4 linked regions of the Homo sapiens genome follow. The protein of the gene in region 1 interacts with the protein of each later gene in a pairwise test. Each region holds a gene or a part of one and is shown in the gene's direction. Other genes may lie near its edges.

Region 1 (7,918 bases):
AAGTAGCTGAGATTACAGGTGCCCACCACCATACCCGGCTAATGTTTGTATTTTTAGTAGAGACGGGGTTTCACCGTGTTGGCCAGGCTGGTCTTGAACTCCTGACCTCACGTGATCTGCCCACCTTGACATCCCAAAGTGCTTGGATTACAGGCGTGAGCCACCGCGACAGCCTTACGTGACATTTTATACACCACTATAGGGGTAGGACACCTAGGGAGGCCAGGATATAGTCTAGTTAGTCAAGAAAAGCAATGAATCGTTTACAAAACACAGACTGGAACTTACTTTAATAGAAACTTTGGTGTCTTTGTGAGCTAGCTTGAGAGCATTGTGGAATACCTTCAGGTCCTCTTCTAAAGCCAAGGTGGCAGCAGGTAGTTTCTGTTGTTCATGCTCTATGTGCTCAGCCAGTTTCCCAGGACAGTCTATGAAAACAAGCCTTTTGCTACCTTTGAGGCCAGTCAGCAGCCGCTCATGATACTTGGTGTACTCCCTGACCCAGGAGTTACAGTTATAGATATAGACTGCGGAGACGTTGTCGTAAGCAAAGCCAGGAAAAACAACAAACCACTTAGAGAGAAAGTCTGTTTTAAAGCGATTGCTAGGCCCGGTATGGGTAAGGTCCACTACAATTTCATATGGCTTTGCATAATATGGCTTTAAAGTCAGTAAGACATGGTATATCAGCAAATCACCATTGATTTGACCAGTTTTGAACCTAAGGAAAATGACAAAAAAGACAAAGATTATTAGCAGTGTTTAAAATAAATATACAGATGCCACTAATCAATTTTATTTTATGATTCATTTTCTAGAGAGAATAATATAAAACAATTCTTCAAAGTCTGGATTCATTTTTTAAATCAGTTGTTTTTTGGACACTGAGAAATAAGGCTAAGAGAAGAGACAAATCTCCAATTCAAAAATTTTGAGCCACGACAACAATAAAAAATTTGCCCATGAGTCAAGAAAGGAAGAAAACAGTGGGAATTAGTTGGTTGCCTGCAGGGCCCACCAAACTCCTTAGGCGAATAGTCTGGTAGGAATGACCCATCTGGAGCTCTGGAGTGAGATGGTTTTAGCCAATCCATTTATCCCACCTTGATCACAGACTGATTCAGCAATGAACACATTATTCAAACCAGGACAACCAGGGCCAAAGAGGCCCAGTTCAGGTAGTTTAGCTTAAATTGTTGGGATTTGAGATATTTCTTTCCTGGTGTTTATAAACAAGGGAATACGTAGCCCTAGGAGTTGCTAGCTCATATTTTGGGATATAAAAGAAGAGCCTCCCAAAAGACTGAAGAGAAGGAGCTGAGAAATAGACAAACTGGAACCCTGGCCATATCATTTGTGTATGAGATAAAGCCTCTCCTGGGGTCAAATTTATCCCAGGACTGCTCAGTTACATAAGCCAATAAATACCATTTTTTGATTAAGCCATATTAGGTCATATGTTGCTTAAAACCAAAAGAATACTAATAAATGGGAGCAGCCACAGTGAGGACCATGAAAAAGCCCTGAAGTAATGGTACCAAAGTTTCAAATCAAAACAATCTATGTTAACTTAGGCCCAAAGTTTTCCATATGTGATGATTCTGGTGATAATACTACTAAGTAAGTTAAAATAAATCTTTACCTCAGAGGTTGGTTAATGGATATAAAAATATAATCAGGGCTGGGCACAGTGGCTCACGCCTGTATTCCCAGCACTCTGGGAGGCTGAGGCAGGTGGGTTACATAAGGCCAGGAGTTCGAGACCAGCCTGGCCAACATGGCAAAACGCTGTCTCTACTAAAAATACAAAAATCAGCCAGGCATGGTGGTACATGTCTGTAATCCCAGCTACTTGGGAGGCTGAGGCACGAGAATCACTTGGACCTGGGAGGCAGAGGCTGCAGCGAGCTGAGATTGTACCACTGCACTTCAGCCTGGGCAACAGTGAGACTGTCTTAAAAAAATAATAATAAAATAAATAATATATGTATTGTTAGAATTAGATAGAAGGAACAAGTTCTACTATTCATAGTAAGGTGACTAGTTAATAATAACATTGTATATTTCAAAACAGCTAGACGAAACAATTTCTTTTCTTTGAGGCAATGGATATCCTAATCACCCTGATTTAATCATTACACATTATATGCATGTATCAAAATATCACACATACAGGCAGGGCATGGTGGCTCACGCCTGCAATCCCAGCACTTTGGGAGGCCAAGACGGGCAGATCACCTGAGGTCAGGAGGTCAAGACTAGCCTGGCCAACAGGGTGAAACCCTGTCTCTACTAAAAATACAAAAATTAGCTGGGCGTGGTGGCACGTGCCTGTAGCCCCAGCTACTTGGGAGGCTGAGGCAGGAGAATTGCTTGAACCTGGGAGGGGAGTTTGCAGTGAGCTGAGATTGTGCCACTGCACTCCAGCCTGGGCGATAGAGCGAGATTCCAACAAAAACAAAAACAAAAAAAACCAAAAAAATCACACATACTCCATTAATATGTACAAATTATCATGTATCAATAAAAAACTTCACCTCAGAATTTTTAATCTTGTTGGGAGAAAATAAGATAAAAATATGACAAGTCAAATGATTTTAAAACAACACAAATATTTCAAGATAGAAGATATGAGGTAGAAAGTAATCACTTATCAAAGGAAATGCAGAGAAAATACTGTTATTAAGACAAAGGAGAGAGAGAGAGAGATTAACACAAACTGGGCAGTCAGTGAAAGCTACATAGAAGATACAGTGGCTGAATCAGGTAAGGAGGAATGCAGACTCAGCAAGAGGACTGGGCAGGCCTTATGGAGAAAGGCAAAAAGGAAAAGAAACAGGTAACTAGATGTGTTGAAGAGACAGCTAGTCTAGCCAGAATGGAGGATTCAGGTAGAGAAGTTTTGAGAGATAAAGCTGGGAAAATACAGAATAGTCAAATTGTGGAGAGACCATAACTGCCCAACCAAAGGGCTTAGGTTTTCTACTAGGGGCTCACCATTTCTCAGCATATGTTCTGTGGACTACTGGCGTCAGAATCAACTGTGGTGCTTGATAAAAATGCAGTTTCCTGGTCCCAACCTGGACCTACTAAATATGGATCTATGTAGTGGGGCCTGGAAATTTTTATCTTTTTTTTTTTTCCCTTAACTCAGGCTGGACTGCAGTGGCACGGTCACAGCTCACTGTAGCCTTGACCTCCCCAGGCTCAGGTGATCCTCCCACCTCAGCCTCCTGAGTAGCTGGGACTACAGATAAGCGCCACCATGCCCGGCTAGTTTTTTGTTTTTGTTTTTTTGTATTTTTTGTAGAGACAGGATTTTGCCATGCTGCCCAGGCTGGTCTCGAATTTCTGTGGCTCAAGTAATCCTCCCGCCTCAGCCTCCCAAAGTGCTGAGATTACAGGTGTGAGCCACCATGTCCTGCTTTTATAATTTTTAAACAATCTTCTCATCTGATGTTTATGTACACAAACATTTCTGAATCATTGTTGTATGTATTAGGGAACTGTTCAACCGGTTTTATTTTCCCTTAAAGAAAGGGTGGTATGACCAAAGACAGTGATGTATACAAGATATAAGAAGGATTCAGGGCTACCGAAAAGGCACTGTAGAGTCTAGGTATGACCTGATAAGGATCTAAAATAGTACTGTTGACAGTAAAAACAGGGAAAAAGAAACTGATCCAACAATATGAAGGAAGGACCAACATGATTCAAAGTCTGATCAGGACTGAGAGGACTTAAATTAAAATGATGTGTTGTATACTAAGCCTCTGATATTAGAATGTTGCTATCATGAACAGAAACAAGAAGACTGTCACAGGCAGCCTCCTTTAAAGAAAAAATAAAGTTCTTTTTATTTCATTAATTTAATTAATTTTTAAGAGATGGAGTCTTGCTATGTTACCCAGGCTGGATTTGAACTCCTGGGCTCCACCAGTGATCCTCCTACCTCAACCTACCTAGTAGCTGGGATTACAGATATGTGCTGCCATATCCAGTTCTTTTTTTTTTTTTTTTTTTTTTTTTTTTTTTTTTTGAGACAGAGTCTTACTCTGTCTTCCTGGCTGGAGTGCAGTGGCATGATCTTAGCTCATGCAGCCAAGATCTCATGATCTCTGCAGCCTCCACGTCCCGGGTTCAAGCTATTCTCCTGTCTCAGCCTCCCAAGTAGGTGGGACTACAGGTGCATGCTACCCTGCCTGGTTAATTTTTATATTTTTAGTAGAGACAGGTTTTCTCTATGTTGGCCAGGCTGGTCTTGAACTCCTGGCCTCAAGTGATCTGCCTGCGTCAACCCTCCCAACGTGCTGGGATTACAGGTGTGAGCCACCGTGTTCAGCCCATACCTAGTTCTTAAAGTCTGTTTCAGTCATGTTAAACTTGAGGTGATGACAGGATGTTTGACAGTTGTGTGTGTGTGTGTGTGTGTGTGTGTGTGTGTGTATACACACACTACACCACACGAAAGCATTTTCTGTCCCATATAATCTAAGTTTACTAGATATTTTCTCAAATAATTGCTGCAGTTCCACAATTGTTACATTATCTGATCAGTATCCCATGGACTCCAAACTCACATTTTCAAATCAGTCTGTAGATTTCAAATAAGTCTTTTAGAGAAGATTTGAAATGGAAGATACCATTTCAAAACCTCTTTTGAATGACACTAAAGCATGTAGCAGGCCTATAGAATGAGCATACTGTCAAAAGGCATTAAGTGGAAAACCCTCCCTGCTCTGGAGGCGGGGATTGGTTCTACAAAGCCTCCTGTCATGCCAGTGGCCAACTAGAGAAGTTGGAGCTTTTTCGTTGTTTTTTTTTTTTTCCCTCCTGTGACATGTGCTTTAGTTGCAGTGGAAAGGAAATGTGTCATCTGTGGTTTGGTTTTAAAAGTGGAAAACTAGCTGCACATATCCTTTTTTACTGCAGATTTACTTTAAGGCTCATATTCTCCAAGTCTATTCTGCTTTAAAAAGAAGACAAGAAAAGAAGTGGTTTATCAAAATCACGTTATAATCAGATTTTGACCAAGCATTTTGTAAGGTAGGTCATATATATACGGCTTTTCTTATGCCTTTTCACTTCTAACGTCTGACAGATTAGTGTTCGAGGAAATGCTATCAAAGTGTGTAAGAATCTCACTAACAAACTAGAATTGTGACTGAAAATGTATACTTTTTTTTTCTGTCCTGTTACATAAATTTTAAGTTAGAAATGAAAAAATTTGCCATCGCCATGGAGTTTTAAATTAGGATTACGAAGGATCTAAGTTTGGTTTCCTCAAGTAAACTGGAAATGTTTTGTTATTTTTCAAAAGTTAAAAAATAAATTTCTCATTACTAATGCTTGGACATTACAAATTCTACTGAAAATAAATTCTACTGAAAATGATCAGATATAAGAAAACTTCTGATAACACAACCTGGCCTCCAAGGCATAAACTGGAGTAAAAACAGTCCTCAATTCTCAGGCATTTGTAAGGGCAAGAGAAAGTCTCATTTTGTCATACAGTTTGTTTATTTGGGCACTGCAGTACATCTGGCTGAAGACAATCAACAGCAGGCCTATTATCTGTTCCGTGGTAAGCACTGTTAAAATGTGTACCAATACTATGATGTATACTACACTGTTAATGAACTAATGTGAAAAGAATAATCTACTTTAAATCATTCTAGCATCTAATACAGAAGTCCAGTCTAGTATAAAAAGATGGAAATTACTTGCTAATCCAATTTCAAGTATTTCTTTTTGTGGAAGAATCATGAAATATCCAAAGATTTATGTCACTAAACTTAAAAATTAAAGCTGAACACTATTATACAAAAGCCAGTGACTTGGGCCTTTAATTGTCTACTAAAGGTCATAATCTAAAAAGTAATCTTAATCCTGGAATATTTAATAGTTTTTCCTCCCTACTATTAATATGAAATATAGTCTCCAGTTAGCATTGTTTATTACATGCTACTTTTGTTTGCATAACTCAACGTATCACATTTCTTATTTTCAATTTCTGTATTTTAATAGTATACAAATGTCAGCCAATGACATATAACAACCATTTCTTATAAAACCTTGATGTTCAAAAGCCTGACTAGCAGTGGCATCCATGTTGCTTAGGAGTTGGTTTGGAAACAAAGACTTTCAGGCCCTACCTATACTAGCTAGGTAAGAATCTGCCTTTTTTTTTTTTTTTTAAATAAAAGGACTCCTAAGTACATTTGAGAAGAATTTCTATAGCATACGTAGGGTTCTTAACCAGGCAATTTCATTTAGTAAATCTCAGGAGAACAATATAGTTTTGCTTTTAGTTCATTCAAATAAATGCTAACAATAAAATACTCCTTTCAAAAGTAGCTCAAGACAAACTGGTATATTATTATAAGATACCTTAATAATGATTATAAATCTTTCCTGCTGGGTTAGCAGTACATGGAACTGTTAAATTCTAAGATATGCCATTTCTATTTAAATCAATCATTTGGTAGATTTAAAAAATGTATAATATAACTTGTCTCCTTTTTGTACTAGTTTCCAGCAAGCTCAGGGCCAAAGCGGAAATTCAACATTTTCAATTATCTGTTGAGATGCTTATAACCTGCCACTTCATCCCAAATCATCAAGATCCTGATGCTCTATTTCTATTTTATTACACATTTTTTTTTACAATTATGTCAAAATCAGAAAAAATGCTAGGTATAAATGATGCTTTAAAAGAAAACCCAGCAACTTTTGTTGAACTTTTAAGTCTACTCAGAGGAAATTTGCTGTTTTTTTTTTTTTTTCTTCAGATTTTTAGGTTGAGAAAACTGGTATGCCTTTGCCTTCAGAAAGACACAGTCAGTCCAGGGAAATATAAATGAAAAGAGACAACCACCACAGTAAAATTGCGTTCACAAATACACTTACAAATGTATTTCTAAGTACCAGCTTTATTCTAAGCTTCAAGATGAACACCCAAGAAAAAAAAAGAACACCTTGAATTTCTATTTGAAGTTCAGTTTCTTTTGGTTGCTACCAAACTTCCCCTCTTTCCACCAAAAAAATTTGCATTTATTTCATACATGAAGCAAGAAGCTCAAGGCCACATTTCTTCTGTAAAGATTGGTGACAGGTTAGAGGGTGGGTAGTTTCTGTAAGAATGATCCTTAATTTTTTTTTTTTTTTAAAGAAGGAATCAGAAAAGTAAAAGCAGAACTAACTGACTCAAAGCAGAAGTCTAGCACGCTTCAAAGGAAGAAAACTATATAAAGCCATGATAGTCCACTTAAAATGATTAATATTTATTTGTAATGCTAACTTCTAGCATCTAAAAGTGTTAATAGAAATTAAAATGCTTCTTCATACATAGCTGAATAGAAAAGAAATTTAGTTGAGAAGGAATTCAGGGTAGCGAATATTAGGCATAAGCTTGTAGTTTACTTGTAACATCTCAACACTATCTTTTAACTACAATTACCAAAACTAGGATCCATTATTCTTTCACAAACTAACAAATTATATTGCTATCCCAACAGATTGCCAAGCATGCCCACGGACATGGAACACACAGGACATTACCTACATCTTGCCTTTCTGATGACAACAGTTTTTTCTTTGTCTCCTGGAACAAAAGCAAACTATACCCGTCTGTGGGCTAACAGTACTTCTTCCTGGGATTCAGTTATTCAAAACAAGACAGGCAGAAACCAAAATGAAAACATTAACACAAACCCTATAACTCCTGAAGTAGATTATAAAGGTAATTCTACAAACATGCCTGAAACATCTCACATCGTAGCTTTAACTTCTAAATCTGAACAGGAGCTTTATATACCTTCTGTCGTCAGCAACAGTCCTTCAACAGTACAGAGCATTGAAAACACAAGCAAAAGTCATGGTGAAATTTTCAAAAAGGATGTCTGTGCGGAAAACAACA
Region 2 (4,816 bases), on another chromosome or scaffold:
TGCTGCCGTGGTGAGTCCGGGCACCTGGGGCTGTGTCCACAGCGGGCGGCTCCGTGGCTGGCAGGGTGTGTGTGGAGGCTGCCTAGGCCCTTGGTCTGTTTTCAGTTCACTAACTTTTGAGTGAGGTCAAACCTTGCCTTCATGCCTGGAGCAGGAAAGCCCCCGAGAAGGGCAGTGTCATGTTGTGCCCAAGACTCCGCTTAGTCGTCCGGCCAGGGCTGCATGCCCCAGGCCTGCGTGGGCTTTGCAGAGGGCAGATGTGTGAGGGGATGCGGCTGCCCAGCGCCCTGTCCGAGTGCTCCCTGAACAATCTTATTTAACATCCATGGCAACCCTACAACCCAGGATTATGACACCCATCTCACAGATGGAGAAGTGGGGCCAGAGAGTGTGACTGGCCCAAGATCACCAGTCATTGTGGGACCTGGCATCAACGCTGGAGGCCCAGTCCCCACACTCTCAGCACCAGTTTGGGGCTGTGAGTCTGACCTCATGGGTCTCCTGACTCTCCCCAAGTGGTCGTCCATTGAAGCATCCAGCCAGGGGTGGGGACGCTGAGGCCAGGTGGATTTTCTTCTTAATGGACTGGATCAGAATGACAGGGTAACAGAATATATTGTTTCATCACATGTTTTTCAGAGCTGTGCATGTGTGCCCTTGCACCAGTCTACGATATAAAACATGCTTCTGACCATGGGTATTGTTAAAAAGTAAGAAGTTTCAGAAAGAGCACTCTTCAGATCTCTAGAACTTAACCTATGAATTATGCAAATCCCAAGGTAGAATGTGGTGACAGATCCTGAGATACCAGCTCTAGTAGCCAAAGCTGTGTCATCCCCTCTTTTTGGAAAGTGTAGGGCAGAGGCTGAGAGAAGACCCACAGATAGGCTTTAGAAATGGGGTTGGTGAAGTGCCTCTTCCCACTCCCAGAAGGAGGGCCCCAGGGGAAAATCCCTCAAAGCCTCACTTGCTGGTCCCCTTGCACAGTCCCCTGCCCTGGGGAAACCACACACTGCCCTCAAGCTCCCAGCCTACAATCGCTCCCCTAAAAAGGGCCCCCTCAGGATCCTGGCATCCCCCCAGGGGTCCCGCGGTGTGGAAACATCTCCCGTGTTGGCCCATCTCCCAACATGGCTGGTTTCCAAGCAGCAGCACAGCCAGGGGGCATCTTGACTGATCTTCCTTCCTGGGGAGGCTGGTGAGCCACCCTCCATCTTCTTCACACAATTCCATCTCATCTCCCTCTCCCAAGACTGCCTCATACCTCCCCCATCCCAGCCAAGCCTTCTCTTTTAACAAACATCAACAAAGTGTCTGACAATAATTTCCATAAAATTGTTGTGAACAAAGGTTGCGAAATGTAGATGGGATGTGGTTAGTGGGTCAGCACTTGATGGAAAAACCCAGCTAGGGGAATGAACACCCCTTCCCGCTGGGCAGGTCTCTAGTTGAGAACCACTAGGCTCTACTGCCTTCTGACTTTCCTCTTTTACCTTTTATCAAAGGCAGCACACAGCCAGAGAGGTGTGCAGTTACAAGCCCACAGCTTGATGGATTTCATACAGCGAACTCCCTGTGTGGATGGTGTCTGGACTAAGAATTAGGGCCAGTTACCAGCGCACAGTCTGATGAATTCTCATAGAGCAAACTCCCCAGTGTAGTTGGCATCTGGACTAAGAATTAGGGCCTGATAAACAACTCCCAGAAATCCCCTCAAGTCCTGTCCCCATCACTGTGCACCCCCACCACCACCCAATTCTGATTTCTAGCACCATGTTCAGTTTTGCCTGCCTTTGAACTTCATATAAGTGGAATTATACAGTGGGTACTCATGTGTGGCTTCTTTCTCTCACCCTTGTGTTTGTGAGACTCACCCAAGTGGCTGGGTGTAGATGTGGGTTGTTTGTTCTCATTACTGTATAGTATTCCCTTGTAGGAATAGACCAACATCTATTTATCCATCCCATGACTGACCATGTTCCCATTTTTTTTTAGTTGAGTTGGATAGACACGAATATGTTCACGCAGACAGGAGCGTTAGAATTGAGAACCAGAGTGTTCTCAGCTGGCAGATGTGCCCAGATAAAACCACCAAGGGGAAATCTGCACGGCGTTCGATGTAAAGTCACACCTTTCAACTCACGGTATCAACTGCATCCGTCTGTGAGAGAGAAAGAAGTTCGTTACTCAGGATTCAATCCCAGACCCGCCCAACCACAGCATGCCCAGTCCAGGGGATACTTGGGTACAGGGAGGCACCTCACACCCTCTCTCACACAGCCTGGTTTTGGAAGCAGCCAGCCTGCCTCACATCCACTGTGTGGCTACTAATTAGGGTCTGTTCCAAGCTGAGCTCCTCCCTCTCTCCTTTGTGGGTGGCGGAGCTGCTTTGCCAAAGGGACCCCAGGGATGGGTGGAAGTCGCCTGGGGCGAGATGGAAATTTCTGGAGAAATCTGGAGGTTTCTAGATTATACAATGGTGGGCAGTGATGGCTACAGTTTAGGGAGAGGGCTTTCTGAAGCCAAAATTTGCCCATTCGTGCCCAGCTCTACGTGTTCCCAGTGGGCCATTTCTTGACCCCACTTGGAAAATGAGTCTCCACTGCTCTTCCTGCTGGGGACTTCCAAGGTGCTTCTGCCAAAGGCTTTCATTGGTCTGGAATGCCCACCTTTTATGGAGGGCTGCCCACTGGTGTCTGACTGCTCCTGCCCAGATACGTTCTCTTAAATGTGTTATTCAATAATTCAGCTTACTCACCGCCTCCAGGCAATGAGGGAAAGGGCTTGGCCAGGTGTAGGGGCAGGAGAGCAGGCACCCTGAGGGCTGGGATTGATGAGCATTTTCAGGAGTCACAGAGGCGTAGCCGCCCTAAATGGACGTCGTGCCTGAGCTGGAAACTCTTGACCCCTAACCAAGGTCACAAAACCAGGTGCAGAGATTGGACTTGGCAGCAGGCAGGCCTTCAGGGAGTAGGGTGATGGGAGCAGACAGTGCCCAGGAGGACACAGCAAGTCCCCAGAAAGCAGGGCCATCGCTCCAAGGGCCACAGTGGCTGACTGGATGGTCCCAACAGTAAGGCCCCTCCTTTAGACAAAAGCTCAAAATCCCTTCTCCCCTTCTCTGTCCCTCACTTCCTATGAAGTCTGGCTCTCTCAGCCACACCTGTGATATTAAGAATCCTAAAACAAAATAATGATAGGGTGAGAATGTCCAGGCAGCATGGAGACTTTCACCAGGGCCAGCAAACCCAGGTATTTACAATCTCTCAACCGAGCTACCAGGACCACAGCTGGAGGGCGCTGGTCTCACTGGTGTTGGGGGAGGAAGTTGTCCCTGGAGAGTTACCTGCCTGAGATGCTTTCATTGGAGGGGTCTTTGAGGACTCCATCTCAAGTCAGCCGAAACCTCAAGCTGAGACGAATGTGATGCTGGGTGATAGTGGAGAGTCTTACCTTCCACACCAGATCCAGGAGACTGTTAGGTCACATGGAGCTCTGTACTGAGAGGATTTGGTGCACACCTGGGCTCAGCAGGGAGGGCGTCCATGTGAGGGTGAGAAGCAATGACAGCCCAAGCTCTCTGGGTCTGGCCCCCCCTACGCCACGTGGGGCTGGATGCAGTGCAGACGCTGTGCCTCGCCCTCCCTACACAAACCCATTAACGGCCATTTCTCTTGGTTCCAGGTGTTCTCCTACATAGCCACTCTGCTCTACGTGGTCCATGCGGTGTTCTCTTTAATCAGATGGAAGTCTTCATAAAGCCGCAGTAGAACTTGAGCTGAAAACCCAGATGGTGTTAACTGGCCGCCCCACTTTCCGGCATAACTTTTTAGAAAACAGAAATGCCCTTGATGGTGGAAAAAAGAAAACAACCACCCCCCCACTGCCCAAAAAAAAAAGCCCTGCCCTGTTGCTCGTGGGTGCTGTGTTTACTCTCCCGTGTGCCTTCGCGTCCGGGTTGGGAGCTTGCTGTGTCTAACCTCCAACTGCTGTGCTGTCTGCTAGGGTCACCTCCTGTTTGTGAAAGGGGACCTTCTTGTTCGGGGGTGGGAAGTGGCGACCGTGACCTGAGAAGGAAAGAAAGATCCTCTGCTGACCCCTGGAGCAGCTCTCGAGAACTACCTGTTGGTATTGTCCACAAGCTCTCCCGAGCGCCCCATCTTGTGCCATGTTTTAAGTCTTCATGGATGTTCTGCATGTCATGGGGACTAAAACTCACCCAACAGATCTTTCCAGAGGTCCATGGTGGAAGACGATAACCCTGTGAAATACTTTATAAAATGTCTTAATGTTCAATACATTTGTTGGGTGTTTTTTGGGTTTGGGTTGAATTCCTCAGCATCAAGAATACCATCAATTCAGCTTTCTTTCTGAGGAATCCTTTGACTTAACCTGAATCTCAAGAGACAGCATCAGGTGGCAGTTCAGACGACGGACACTGTGTGTGCCAGGCCACTGCACTCTCAGAGCCCGGTGCTGGGGAGCCCACCCTCCCAGCTACCTGCCCAGATGGCTTCCCCTCTCTCTGGAAACTGGCCAAGTGCCAGCCAGGGGCAGCTTCTCCTTCCTACAAGACACAACAGTCTGTGCCCCACTAGAACCTCCTTCCACCAAAAGAAAACACGGTGCACAAGTTTTCATTCACTCATTGTGAAGCTCATCAGCGTGTTCCTGGGCAGTCTGCTTTGTTCCCATTGTGTGGATAATACATTATTTTAGAATTTCCTCGGGCCACTCCATAGGAGAGAAAGGAGAGGAAATTACAGAGTGAAAGGAAGTACGGTGACAAGGGGTGAATGCCATGTTTCAAGTCTGA
Region 3 (7,031 bases), on another chromosome or scaffold:
AGCGATGTTTGGTGGCTTGTATCTAGCGGGTGGTAGTGGAAGAGGTAAGTAGCCAGATTCTAAATATGCTTTGAAGGTAGACAGGGTTTGCTGATGGATTGGATGTGAGGTAAAGAGAAACAGAGGAATTAAGCATAACTCAAAGGTTTTTTTTTTTCTTGGACACATTCCACATTTTATTTACATTTTCAGACTAACTTTGGGCTGGGTGCTGTGCCTCATGCCTGTAATCTCAGCACTTCGGGAGGCCAAGGCAAGTGGATCACTTGAGATCAGGAGTTCCAGACCAGCCTGGCCAACATGGTGAAACCTTGTCTGTACTAAAAATACAAAAATTAGCCAGGCGTGGTGGCATGTGCCTGTAGTCCTAGCTACTCGGGAGGCTGAGGCAGGAGGATTGCTTGAGCCCAGTAGGCAGAGGTTGCAGTGAGCTGAGATCATGCCACTGCATTCCAGCCTGGGCAACAGAGAGAGGCTCCATCTCAAAAAAAAAAAAAAAAGACCAACTTTAGTTTCAAAATTATATCTCCATATATGTATCCCTTTTTTGTTGATGTCACTTAACCTTAAGTGCATAGTTTGTTAAAAAAAAAAAACTGTAAGCAAATATTTACCATGTCTGTTACGTGTAACACACATGAACAGCTTTTAACAGAAATTCATCAACTCCCCCCCAACATTTTTTATTATAAGATAGGTATCAAAACAATCCTGAACATATTTTTCATACTACTAGTAGTCAGCACCCACACCACTTCAAAAATTAACACATTTGTGCTGGATGTGGTAGTTTTTACCCATAATCCCAACACTTTGGGAGGCTGAGGCAGGCAGATCACCTGAGTTCAGGAGTTCGAGACCAGCCTGGCCAGCATGGTGAAACCCCATCTCTACTAAAAATACAAAAATAAGCTGGGCATGGTGGTGCATGCCTGTAGTCCCAGCTACTTGGGAGGCTGAGGTAGGAGAATCGCTTGAACCTGGGAGGTTGTAGTGAGCCAAGATCTCATCACTGCATTCCAGCCTGGGCAACAGAACAAGACTCCATCTCAAAAAAATAAAAAAAATTAAAAAAATCAAACACATTTGTGACAGTGTTCATTGTACCTGCTACTTTTTTTTTTTTTTTTAATTTAACGGAGTCTTGCTCTGTCGCCTAGGCTGGGGTACAGTGGTGCGATCTTGGCTTACCACAATCTCCGCCTCCCAGGTTCAAGTATAATCCCAGTAGCTGGGATTACAGGTGCCCGCCTGGCTAATTTTTGTATTTTTAGTAGAGACGGGGTTTCGCCATGTTGGCCAGGCTGGTCTCTCTAACTCCTCACCTCAAGTGATCAACCCTCCTTGGCCTCCTAAAGTGCTGGGATTACAGGCGTGAGCCACTATGCCTGGCCAATACCTGCTACTTTTTAAACAATTTCAACTGCAGCTCTCTTTCACTAAGCAAGATGGATAAAGCATGCCATTTCTGTTTTCTTTTTTCTTGAGACAGAATTTTGCTCTTGTTGCCCAGGCTGGAGTACAATGGCACGATCTCGGCTCACCACAACCTCCACCTCCGGGGTTCAAGCAGTTCTGCCTCCGCCTCCCAAGTAGCTGGGATTACAGGCATGGGCCACCACGCCCTGCTAATTTTGTATTTTTAGTAGAGACAGGGTTTCTCCATGTTGGTCAGGCTGGTCTCAAACTCCTGACCTCAGGTGATCTGCCCACCTTGGCCTCCCAAAGTGCTGGCATTAAAGGTGTGAGCCACCTCTCCTGGCCTCTGTTTTCTTTTTCCTTTCCTTTTTTGTTTGAGATGGGGGTCTTACTCTGTCACTCAGGCTAGAGTGCAGTGGTGCGATCTCAGCTCACTGCAACTTCTGCCTCCCGGGATCAAGCGATCATCCTACCTCAGTCTCCTAAGTAGCTGGGACTACAGGCGCGTGCTACCACGCCTGGTTAATTTTTGGATTTTTTGTAGGGACGGACTTTCACTATGTTGGCCAGGCTGGTCTTGAACTCCTGGCCTCAAGTGATCTGCTCGCCTGAGCCTCCCAAAGTGCTGGGATTACAGACATGAGCCACTGTGCCCAGCCCTGTTTTCTTTATTGAGATTTTTAGTCTTTAGAAACACACATGCTTCCACTGCCATCTGACACTTCTTACCACGCTTTCATCTTGTAAACCTGAATTATATTTCGAGTACTCCAAGTTTATGTTTAAATGACAGTACCTTAACAAGAGAAAAAAATTGGGTTGCATTTTTCCTGTTACCTGAAAACATAATGGGTGTACATATATTAAATATATTCTTACAAATGTCCAGGTCATGTTTACCAGCCGGAGTTCTTTTATTTAACGTGTGGGTATTTTGCATTGTGATATTTAATCAAGACATTAACACGAGTAGAAGGTTGTTGATATAAGACAAGTTTGAGATCCACTAAAATTAATTGTTGTATGTTTGTCCTTCCAGTGGCTGTGGAAGCTTCATATTTTCTTTGGACATCATTAGACGTCTTAGCTCCTGAAGTACAACTTTAATGCTATATGAATTTTGTCATTTTGCTAACACTGGTGTGCTGCGGTCATCCACCATCCCACTGGAGTTATTTATTCCATTCATATTAATTCTTGTTACAAATCTAACTGATGGGGGAGCTTCTGGGTATTTGGGTCCACTTTCTATTTTCAGGCTATATATTCTTTTTTTTTATTTTTGAGACAGAGGCTCGCGCTGTGGCCCACACGGGAGCGCAGTGGCGTGATCTCGGCTCACTGCAACCTCTGCTTCCTAGGTTCATGTGATTCTCCTGCCTCAGCTTCCCGAGTAGCTGGGATTACAGGTGCACACCACCACACCCAGCTAATTTTTTGTATTTTTAGTAGAGATGAGGTTTCACTATGTTGGGCAGACTAGTCTCAAACTCCTGACCTCGTGATCTGCCCTCCTTGGCCTCCCAAAGTTCTGGGATTATAGGTGTGAACTGCCATGCCCGGCCTATATTCTCTTTTCATAATTTGTCCTTGGTGGCCCAATAATCATGCCTGTCCACCTTGTAAATGTCATATCTTCATCATCTTTAAGGCCCCAGTTAATCATACCATTGCCTATCAATAGCTGCATAAGCATAACTCAAAGGTTTTGACCTGAGAACTGGAAGATACCATCTGGAGTGATGTCATCATGTGAGAAGGGCAAGGCTGGGGATAGAACAAGTTTTGGGGGAAAAGCAAGCAATTGACTTCGTGGTTTTTTGTTTTGTTTTTTGTTTGTTTTGAGACAGAGTCTCACTCCGTCTCCCAGGCTGGAGTGCAGTGGCATGATCTCGGCTCACTGCAGCCTCTGCCTCCCGGGTTCAAGTGATTCTCAGCCTCCCAAGTAGCTGGGATTACAGGCGTCTGCCACCATGCCTGGCTAATTTTGTATTTTTAGCAGAGACGGTGTTTCACCATGTTGTCCAGACTGGTCTCAAACTCCTGACCTCAGGTGATCCACCCACCTTGGCCTACCAAAGTGCTGGGATTACAGGCATGAGCCACTGCGCCTGGCCAACTTTGGACATCTTAATGTCTATTAAATCTCCTAACAAAGATGTCAAATGGGTAGTTCAAGTTCAGAGAAGCCTGGGCTAGAGATTACATATCTGGGAGTCATTGGTCTATAGATAAAGTTGTAGGACTGGGTGAGGTCATCAAGGGGGAGGGAGTGTTGGTAGAAAAGTCAGTCCTGGTCTGAGCCCTGGGACACTCCCACATTAGAGGTGGGGGAAGAAAAGGCACAGGTAAAGGGGATGTGAGCAAGCATCCAGAGGAGTAAGAGGAAAATCAAAAGGCTGTGGTGGCCTGGCAGCTAATTATAAAAAGTTCAGTGAAGGAAATCAATGAGGTGGTGTAATAGAAAGTACAAGGTGGTGGTGAAGGGAAGAGGCTGTCTTTGTGAAAGTGACGTTCAAACTAGGACTTGAAGACGGAAGGATAAGGAGCTGGCCACGGGGTGGAATTGGAGTCTGATTGTGATGCTGAGTCCTCCAGGGCTGAAGGACCACTAAGTGCAAATGTGGTGGGTGAGAGAGAGTGTGACATTGGCTAGGATCTACTGAAAGGTCTGTGTGAGCCAGAGGGGGCATGAGACACAGTTGGTGAGTTAGGCAGGGTCTCTGTCATGGCGATCTTAACCAGTCCTACTCCCCAACCTCCAGGGCTCAGTCCTTGGGCCTCTTTTCTCTATCTCCATGTACTCCCTTGGTGATGTAGCTCATGGCTTCAGATGCCATCTGTTAAGCTAGTGACTCTTAAACTCCAGACTCATATCCAACTTCTTGCTCAGCAACTTCTCCTAGAACTGTCTCATAAACATCTCAAGCTTAACATGTCTGAGACCAAATTCTGATCTTCTCCCCAAGGAAACCTGCTTCGCCCACAGCTTTTTCCCCATTTTGCTCAATGGCAGCTTCATCCTAGTTCTTCAGGCCAAAAGCTGTGGGCATCGTCCTTGACTCCCACGTCTCACATCCAGTTCATCAGCAAATTCTGTTGACTCTCCTTTCAAAATGCATGTAGGATCTGACCACTTCTTACCGTGTCCAGCCACCACTGTGATCATCTGTCCCTGGATTTTTGCGGCAGGCTCCCAACTGGTCTCTTTACCTCTGTTCTGGTCCCATTCAGGCTGTTCCCACTCAGCCACCAGAGTAATTCTGTTAAAATATAGGGCAGCCCTGTCAGTCCTGCTTAGAACTCTTCAGTGGCTCCCATCTTGCTCAGAGTAAAGGCCAGGGTCTTTACAGTGACTCCCTAGGGCCCTACATTCTTTGCCCACCTTTTGCCCTCCCCCCAGTTCTCTGACCCACCCTCCTCCTTTCTTCCTGCTCATCCTGGGCCAGCCACACTGCCCTTTCTAGTCCAGGAGCATGCACAACCCCTCCTGCCCCTCCCTCAGGTCCTTTGTAGATGCAGCTTCCTCTGTTTGAAATGCTTTTCCTGCTTCTAACCATGTGGTTCACTTTCTCACTTCCTTCACCTATTTGCCCAAATGTCAGCTGCTCAGTGAGGCCTTGCTTTCTACCTTGCTTAAAATTACACACCCACTCCGTGCCCCCACCTGATACTTCCCCTGCTGCTCTTCTCTGCATTAGTTTTCCTCATAGCACATGTTACCTTCTAATGTGCCATATAAAGTACTTAATTGGTTAATTATCTTCCCCCTTCGACTGCGAGCTCCCTCCCTGCAGTCAGGGATTTCTGTCTCTGGTATTAGCTGAACCCCTAGCACCCAGAGCACTGCCTGGCATGTAATATTACTTAGTAAATATCCAGTGAACAAATGGGAAGGCATTGAAATATACTGAGCAGAGTAGTGACATAATCTGGTTTAAGATTTTTTAAACATTGTCTTTTATTGACATATAATTGACACACAGTGAAATGCACAGGTTTTTAGTGTTGCAGCTTGATGAATTTTGATAAATGTATACAGTTGCATAACCCACACCCCGTCATCATCCAGAACACTTCCATCACCCCCAAAAGCTTCCCAGTGCTTCTTGCCTGTCAATCCCACACTCCCTGCCCCCATCCAGAGACAGGAAAAGAACCACTGTTCTGATTCCTCTCACAGAGATTAGTTTTGCCTGTCATATAAATGGAACCTTTCACTATGAACTATGTATGTATGTATGTATGTGTATTTATTTCAGTCTGAGCTCTCGTCTGGCTTCTTTTGCTCAGCGTGATGTTTTTGAGATTCATTGTTTTATTGCGTGTATCAGTAGTTCCTTTTTTTGCTGACTAGCATTCCATTGTAACATACCACAACTTCTTTTTATCCATTCTCCTTTTCAGGGACATTTGGATTGCTTCCATATTTTGGCTATTACGTCTGAACATTCATGTTCAAGTCTTTTTGTGGATATTTGTTTTCATTTTTCTTGGGTAAATGCCCAGGAGTAGAATTGCTGGGTCACAGGGCAGATGATGTTTAATTTTATGAGAAACTGCCAAACTGTTTTCTGAAGTGGTTGTACTTCTTTACACTCCCCCCAGCAAGTGTTCCAGTTGCTCTGCGTCTTGCCAACTTTTTGACTTAAGTCTTAACAGATTCATTCTGGCTGCCGTGTGGAGAACCGGCCCAGTATTTCACTGTGTAAGCTCATTCAGAAAATGGGGTTGGGAGAGGAGGAATGCCTAAAAGGAAATTCCCAGATGGGCCACGTCTCTGAATCAGGTAGAGCACATGAAGCCTTGGGCCATGTATCAAATGCTAGGAAACAGCTTTCTCCCCAAGGGCTCTACTGTTTTCTTGTGTCAGATAACCAGATCTTTTTCCTCCCCAGAGTGGGTTGCTCTTGGTTTTGGGGTGGGGACAGAGATCTCTGCTCAACCTTGCTTACATCACTTTTTTTTTTTTTTTTTTTCAAAAGACAGAGTTTAGCTCTTGTTGACCAGGCTGGAGTACAATGGTGCGACCTCTGCTCACTGCAACCTCTGCCTCCTGGTTCAAGCGATTCTCCTGCCTCAGCCTCCCGAGTAGCTGGGATTACAGGCGTGCACCACCATGCCCGGCTAATTTTTTTTTGTATTTTTAGTAGAGATGGGGTTTCTCCGTGTTGGTCAGGCTGGTCTTGACTTCCTGACCTCAGTTGATCCACCCGCTGTGGCCTCCCAAAGTGCTGGAATTACAGCGTGAGCCACTGTGCCTGGCCTTTTTTTTTCTTGAGACGGAGTTTTGCTCTTGTTGCCCAGGCTGGAGTGCAATGGCACGATCTCGGCTCACCACATCCTCTGCCTCCAGGGTTCAAGCGGTTCTTCTGCCTCAGCCTCCCGAGTAGCTGGGATTACAGACATGCGCCACTACACCCGGCTAATTTTTTGTATTTTTAGTGGAGATGGGGTTTCTCCATGTTGGTCAGGCTGGTCTCGAACCCCTGACCTCAGGTGATCCACCTGCTTCAGCCTCCCAAAGTGCTGGGATTACAGGCGTGAGCCACCATACCTGGCCGCTTACATTGCTTTTTGCCGAGTGATCTAAGGAGGTGTTCTTGGAGACT
Region 4 (7,031 bases), on another chromosome or scaffold:
AAGGGAAACATACTCCACACTAGCTAATGAAGCCCCTTCTTTTATGCTTTTATCTTCCAGATATTTGGGTTCTTGGTCTGGACCATGGTAGCCGCCACCCACATAGTATACCCCTTGCTGCAAGGATGGGTGATGTATGTCTCGCTCACCTCGTTTCTCATCTCCTTGATGTTCCTGTTGTCTTACTTGTTTGGATTTTACAAAAGATTTGAATCCTGGAGAGTTCTGGTAAGAACCAGCAGCATGGCTCTTCCTGGGTGGACGTTCTGGGTTGGGTGAGGACAATTGGCCTTTCTGGGCAGGGAGGGATCCTGGGCTAGGCTCCTATGGAACCAAGACTTTTTATCTTACCATTTTTACTACCACGCTAAAATGAAGACATTTATCTGCAAGCGTAAATAATTCCTGGTATTCCCCTTCACTGGCTTCCCTGTTAGGAGAATACACAATGACCTGTGATCAAGCATATTCTGATGTGTTTCCCCTAAATTTTCTTCCTGGTAAAATCCTTGGAGCAACACTGAAGAAAAAGCTAGTAGGAAAAAAATCACTCCATTCTCAAGGCCCTAACACAATCCCTGCGACAGGGTATTTCTTCCATATCCCACATGAATTATATGCAAAGTATATATACATATATACGTATATACATATGTATATATGTATATATATGTATATATATACTTTAATTGTACTCTACAAATAATTTTGGATGTAGATGCTTTCATTTAATATTACATCACTAATTTTTATTTATCACGTCATCTCAAAAAACCATTTAAAACTGTTCCACACTGAACAATTGAAGACATATTTAAAAGTACAGAATATTGTATTATAGGCCCTCATGTAGCCATAACCCAGATTCCAGCATTATCAAGACCTTACCACATTTGTTTCATCTAGCCTTTGTCCCCACTAAGGAATTTTAAAGCAAACACCAAACATCATGCCATTCTATTCCACACACTTCAGTATGTTTCCAAAAAAACTCCGCAAACTTTCTCACATTATCACATGTATACGAAGTAAACAATTCCTCAGCATACCTAAGACAGTATACAGTGGTCCCCCATCTCCGGAGGATAAGTCCCAAGACCCCTAGGGGATGCCTGAATCCTCAGAGAGTACTGAACTCCGAATTTGCTATGCATGCACTTCTTTTTTCTTCTTCACAATTTCACAGATAGACAATTCATTCTTACTGTAGATCTTAACAACCTCAGCATATTTTTTTTCTTTCCTTATTAAGCTGAAAACTTATACTTTTTAACTTAAAGAAAGCACCCTATGACTTCTCTTTGGCATATCCAAATTGCCAGCATCACTACTCTTGCAATTTGGGGCCATTATGAAGTAAAATAAGGATTCTTTGAATGCAAGCACTGCAGTGCCACAACAGTTGATCTGATAGCCCAGATGAGTACAAAGCGACTAACATGGGTGGCACAGACAGTGTAGACATGCTAGACAAATGTCTGATTCACATCCCAGGTGGAACAGGGCGGGACAGTGCAAGATTTCATCATTGTACTCAGAAAGGCACACATTTAATTGTTAATTTCTGGAATTTTTCATTTAATATTTCAGACCAAGATTGACTTTGCGTAACTGAAATATACTGATCTTTATTAGTCTGCCATTGCTTACGACATAGATATTACATTAAAAACACTGTGTATTAGTCTATTCTCACATTGCTATAAACAACCAGAGACTGGGTAAATTATAAAGAAAAGAGGTTGAATTGACTAGTTCCTCATGGTTAGGGAGGCCTCAGGAAACTTACAATCATGGTGGAAGGTGAAGGCTAAGCAAGGCATGCCTTGCATGGCAGCAGGAGAGATGGGGGAGGGGGAAGTGCCATACTTTTAAACCATCAGATCCCATGAGAACTCATTCACTATCATGAGAACAGCATAGGGGAAACTGCCCCCATGATCCAATCACCTCCCACCAGGTCCCTCCCTTGATACATGTGGATTACAATAGGAGATGAGATTTGGGTGGGGACAAAGAGCCAAACCATATCATTATACCACTGGCCCCTCCCAAATCTCATCCTTCTCACATTTAAAAATACAATCATGCCTTCTCAACAGTCCCCCAAAGTTTCAACTTATTCCAGCATTAACCCAAAAGTTTAAGTCCAAAGTCTCATCTAAGACAAGAGAAGTCTCTTCTGCCTATGAGCCTGTAAAATCAAAAAGCAAGTTAGTTACTTCCAAGACACAATAAGGGTACAGGCATTGGGTAAATGCTCCCATTCCAAATGGGAGAAATTGGTCAAAACAAAGGGGCTACAGGCCCCATGCAAGTCCTAAACCCAGCTGGGCAGCCATTAAATGTCGACATTCCAAAATCTCCTTTGACTTCATGTCTCAGATTCAAGTCACCCTGTTACAAAGGGTGGGCACCCAAGACCTTGGGCAGCTCCACCTCTGTGGCTCTTCACAGTACAGCCCCTGCAGCTGCTTTCACAAACTGGCATTGAGTGTCTGTGCTTTTTCAAGGTGACCAGTGCAAACTGTCAGTGAACCTACCATTCTGGGGTCTACAGGACAGCTCTTCTCACAGCTGTACTAGCCAGTGTCACAGTGGGGACTCTCTGTGGGGGGTCTGACCCCACATGTCCCTTCTGCACTGCCCTAGTAGAGGTTCTTCATAAGGGCTCCACCCCTGCAGCAGACTCTGCCTGTACATCCAGTCATTTCCATACATCCTCTGAAATCATGGCAGAGGTTCCTAAACCTCAATTCTTGCCTTCTGCATGCCTGTAGGTCCAACACCATGTGTAAGCTGCCAAGGCTTGAGGCTTACACACTCTGAAGCAATGGCCCAAGCTGTACCTTGGCCCCCAGCTGCTGGAGCTGGGGCAGCCGGGTTGCAGAGTGCTGTGTTCCAGGACTGTGCAGAGCAACAGGGCCCTGAGCCTGGCCCACAAAACCATTTTTCCCTCCTAGGTCTCTGAGCCTGTGATGGGAGGGGCTACTGTGAAGATCTCTGAAATGCCCTGGAGATATCGTCCCCTTTGTCTTGGGGACCCTCATTACTCATGAAAATTTCTGCAGCTGACAGCTTGAATTTCTCCCCAGAAAATATGTTTTTCTTTTCTAACACATGATCAGGCTGCAAATTTTCCAAACTTTTATGTTCTGCTTCCCTTTTAAACATAAGTTCCAATTTTGGACCATCTCTTTGTGAATGCATATGATTGTACACTTTCAGGAAAAGTCAGGTCACATCTTGAATGCTTCAATGCTTAGAAATTTCTTCTGCCAGATACCCCAAATCATCTCTTTTAAGTTCAGAGTGCCACAGATCTCTAGGACAGGGGTAAAATGCCACCAGTCTCTTTGCTAAAGCATAGCAAGAGTGACCTTTATTCCAGTTCCCAATAAGTTCCTCATCTCCATCTGAGACCACCTCAGCCTGGATTTCATTGTCCATATCACCATCAGCATTTTGGTCAGAATCATTCAACAAGTCTCTAGAAAGTTCCAAACTTTCCTACATCTTCCTGTCTTCTTCTGGGTACCCCAAACTGTTCCAACCTTTGCCCATTATCCAGTTCCAAAGTTGCTTCCACATTTTCAGGTATCTTTATAGCAGTGCCTGACTCCTGGTACCAATTTTCTGTATTAGTCTGTTCTCACACTGCTGTAAAGAACTACCTGAGGCTGGGTAATTTATAAGGAAAAGAGGTTTAATTGGCTCACAGTTCTGCATGGCTAGGGAGGTCTCAGGAATCTTACAATCATGGTGGAAGGCGAAGGGGAAGCAAGGCACACCTTACATGGCAGCAGGAGTGAGAGAGGGAAGTGTCACACTTTTAAACCATCAGATCTTATGAGAACTCCCTCACTATCACGAGAACAGCATGGGGAAACTGCCCCCATAATCCAGTCATCTCCCACCAGGTCCCTCCCCCAACATGTGGGGATTACAATTCGAGATGAGATTTGGGCAGGGACACAGAGCCAAACCAAATCACACTGCAAAAAAAAAAAAAAAAGGCAGGACTCTAGGGGGCTGGCCTGCCTCATTTGCTCATTCTTTACTGCTATGTAGCCAGAGAGGAAAATGTTCACCTGATTGATGTGGCCATGCGTGGCTCTGCTCTGCATTTCCAGGACAGCCTGTACCACGGGACCACTGGCATCCTGTACATGAGCGCTGCCGTCCTACAAGTACATGCCACGATTGTTTCTGAGAAACTGCTGGACCCAAGAATTTACTACATTAATTCGGCAGCCTCGGTGAGTGGGCTGGCCAAGGACAGCAGTCTTGCCTGGAGGATGTTTCGTGCAGGAGGCCTAACTTTGCTTGTGCTGTATAGACCCTGAGCCCTCAAGTGGAAGGAGCCATGGGGGCAGGGGATAGGGATGTGTGTCCCTGTAAACATGTGCACCCACGTTCAGGGGTCCTCTTTTACCTTCTATTGTTCCCACTCCAGCTTTCCTCTCTCTTAGACACCCCCCACGCTGTCTGCAGAATTTTCTTTTTCCAAAACACAAATTGGAACAGATGTCTCTCTCCTACTGAAAATCCTTCAATGGCACCCACTGCCTTTGGAATGGGGCCCGCATCCCTCGGCATGGCTGAACTATTGAGAGATGAAGCAGGGAAGGGGAAAGTGGAATGTCGAGGTCTCAGGGGAGGAGGCATCAGGGAAGGCCCTGTCAAGAGGACAGAAGGAGGCAGGGGCCACCAGGCAGTTACCCCTGCTAAGGTCCCACCAGGCAGTTACCCCTGCCAAGGACCCTCTGTGTGCTCAAGGGCAGCCAGGAGGGTGGTGTAGCTGGGACAGCTGGCCATGGAGGATTGCAGGGGCCGTTGCTGGTCTTGCAAGTTTAGGAAGTTAAACTCACCTGATGAGGAGGGAAGGGAGGCAGACAGGCCAGAAGGCAGCTGAAATATCTTGTGGCCACCCCAGAGGGTCACAGTGCACTCCACAGTGGGTGGCATTTACCTCCATCTAACCCATGTATGTGCTACTCATCTATCTTGCTGCTATCTGCTTCTTATCTCTCAAATGTAAGCTCCATGAGGGCAGGAATTTTTGAATATTTTCTTCACTGTTATACCCACAGTTGCTCTTGAAGGAAAGCAGGTCCTTAAAAGATATTTGTTGACTGACTGACTGAATGAGGAGCGTGTGAGTGGACAGTGGGGCAGAGTGGGGCTGGGATGTTTGGCAGGGCCTGAAAGGTATTGAAGGTGACGGCCCTACCCTGAGAAAAGAGCAGAGCCATCATACAGCTTCAACGTGGGGCAACGGGATTGTGTTCTCCCCATGAGTGAGAAGTGTCCTCACTTGTCCACTTCTGCCTGCCCTGCCCAAATGGTGGAGCAGATTCGAGGGGCAGGGCAGGAAGAAGTGGACAAGTGAGGCCATGAGGAGTCCTGCCGAGGGATGCCGGTGGCTGAGACAAGGGAAAAATGAATGTCCCAAGAGCTAGGCAGGGAAATCAGTAGCCTTTGGGGTGGCTTTGCATATGGCTGGCAAGGGAGGCAGGAGGAGCCAGGGGCCACAGGGGTCAGGCTCAGGGAGTGGGGCGAGAGGAGGACCCTGGGGCCCACTGGGCTTGTCAGGCTTGTGAGGAAACGTCAGGGGCTCAGTGTGAGCCAGGAAGAGCTGGAGGATGTCTGAACATTCACGAGGAGCTGATAAGCAGCCGCTCAGGGCAGAGTTCTGGGCCAGCGAGGGGAGCTGTAGGAGTGTTCAGAACACAGATTTGCTGGAGGTGGGCAGAGGAGAGCGGGCCTCGGGCAGGAGGTCAGCGTGGGATATGGGCCCAGAGCTGTGGTGGAGGTGAGCCTGCTTCACAGCCAGGTGCAGATGAGGTGGAGACTGCAGTCGGGGCAGGACACCAGGACGGCCCCAGGGAGGCCCTGATGGAGAGTTTCCAGAAGAGGGAGTTGTTGGCCAGGGGTTGCTGCCCTCAGGCCACGCAGGAGGCGAGGAGGCAGGGTCATGCGTGGCCTCCTGGGCAGTGGGGCTGAGGGTACCTGAGGGGTGGGCAGGAGCTGGCGCTGCTGTCTCTAACAGTCACTCTCCACCTCCTTCCAGTTCTTCGCCTTCATCGCCACGCTGCTCTACATTCTCCATGCCTTCAGCATCTATTACCACTGATGCACAGGCGCCAGGCCAAGGGGGAAATGCTCTTTGAAAGCTCCAATTATTGGTCCCCAAAAGCAGCTTCCAACGTTTGCCATCTGGATGACAAACGGAAGATCCACTAAAACGTCCACGGGATTAACAGAACGTCCTTGCAGACTGAGCGATGACACCACACTTTGTTTGGACATTTAAATTCACTCTGCTGAATAGGAGGAAGCTTTTCTTTTTCCTGGGAAAACAACTGTCTCTTGGAATTATCTGACCATGAACTTGCTCTTCTAGACAACTCACATCAAAGCCCTCACTCCACTAATGGAGAATCCTAGCCCCACTAATGCCAAGTCTGTTTGGGGATTTTGCCTCAGCTATGGGCTTCCCTAGAGTAGGTCTAGGGGAATACTCAGTCTGATCTTTTTTTTGTTTGTTTTATTTTGTTTTTTTTGAGACGGAGTCTCGCTCTTCCTCCAAGGCTGGAGTGCAGTGACGCGATCTCCACTCACTGCAGGCTCCGCCTCCCGGGTTCCCGCCATTCTCCTGCCTCAGCCTCCCGAGTAGCCGGGACTACAGGCGCCCACCACCGTGCCCGGCTAATTTAGTTGTATTTTTAGTAGAGATGGGGTTTCACCGTATTAGCCAGGATGGTCTCGATCTCCTGACCTCGTGATCCGCCCGCCTCGGCCTCCCAAAGTGCTGGGATTACAGGCGTGAGCCACCGCGCCCGGCCTGATTCTCTTAAAATTGAAGAGGTGCTGCCAAGGCCTTCAGATCTAACGCAGATGCATAGACCTTGTTCCTGGTACTTGTTCAGCCTGTGCTGGGGAGCCGTGGTCCCGAGTTCCCTGGGAGGCTGACAGGGTCAAGCCACCCTGCCCACCACCCTCCCACTTCCCCTCCCCTTTCCTCTCCA

The links.
Region 2: the proteins of EVI2A (region 1) and MAL interact in binary tests that used the Homo sapiens proteins (3 or more experiments, as listed by UniProt).
Region 3: the proteins of EVI2A (region 1) and UBIAD1 interact in binary tests that used the Homo sapiens proteins (3 or more experiments, as listed by UniProt).
Region 4: the proteins of EVI2A (region 1) and MALL interact in binary tests that used the Homo sapiens proteins (3 or more experiments, as listed by UniProt).

What each region holds. Positions count from the first base shown.
Region 1 is NC_000017.11:31,318,623-31,326,540, reverse strand, and holds the start of EVI2A (protein EVI2A isoform 2 precursor), read left to right. Parts: upstream 1-4,918; 5' UTR 4,919-5,046; intron 5,047-6,027; exon of another isoform or gene 6,028-6,109; coding exon of another isoform or gene 6,110-6,168; intron 6,169-7,517; coding exon of another isoform or gene 7,518-7,527; coding exon 7,528-7,918. Other genes in the region: NF1 (neurofibromin), read right to left, coding at 289-721. UniProt on the Homo sapiens protein: May complex with itself or/and other proteins within the membrane, to function as part of a cell-surface receptor.
Region 2 is NC_000002.12:95,049,697-95,054,512, forward strand, and holds the end of MAL (myelin and lymphocyte protein), read left to right. Parts: coding exon 1-10; intron 11-3,684; coding exon 3,685-3,759; 3' UTR 3,760-4,296; downstream 4,297-4,816. UniProt on the Homo sapiens protein: May be involved in vesicular trafficking from the Golgi apparatus to the cell membrane. Plays a role in the maintenance of the myelin sheath, and in axon-glia and glia-glia interactions.
Region 3 is NC_000001.11:11,276,180-11,283,210, forward strand, and holds part of UBIAD1 (ubiA prenyltransferase domain-containing protein 1), read left to right. Parts: intron 1-2,234; exon of another isoform or gene 2,235-2,694; intron 2,695-2,997; exon of another isoform or gene 2,998-3,096; intron 3,097-7,031. UniProt on the Homo sapiens protein: Prenyltransferase that mediates the formation of menaquinone-4 (MK-4) and coenzyme Q10. MK-4 is a vitamin K2 isoform present at high concentrations in the brain, kidney and pancreas, and is required for endothelial cell development.
Region 4 is NC_000002.12:110,084,800-110,091,830, reverse strand, and holds part of MALL (MAL-like protein), read left to right. Parts: intron 1-60; coding exon 61-228; intron 229-4,133; coding exon 4,134-4,259; intron 4,260-5,307; exon of another isoform or gene 5,308-5,398; intron 5,399-6,073; coding exon 6,074-6,136; 3' UTR 6,137-7,031.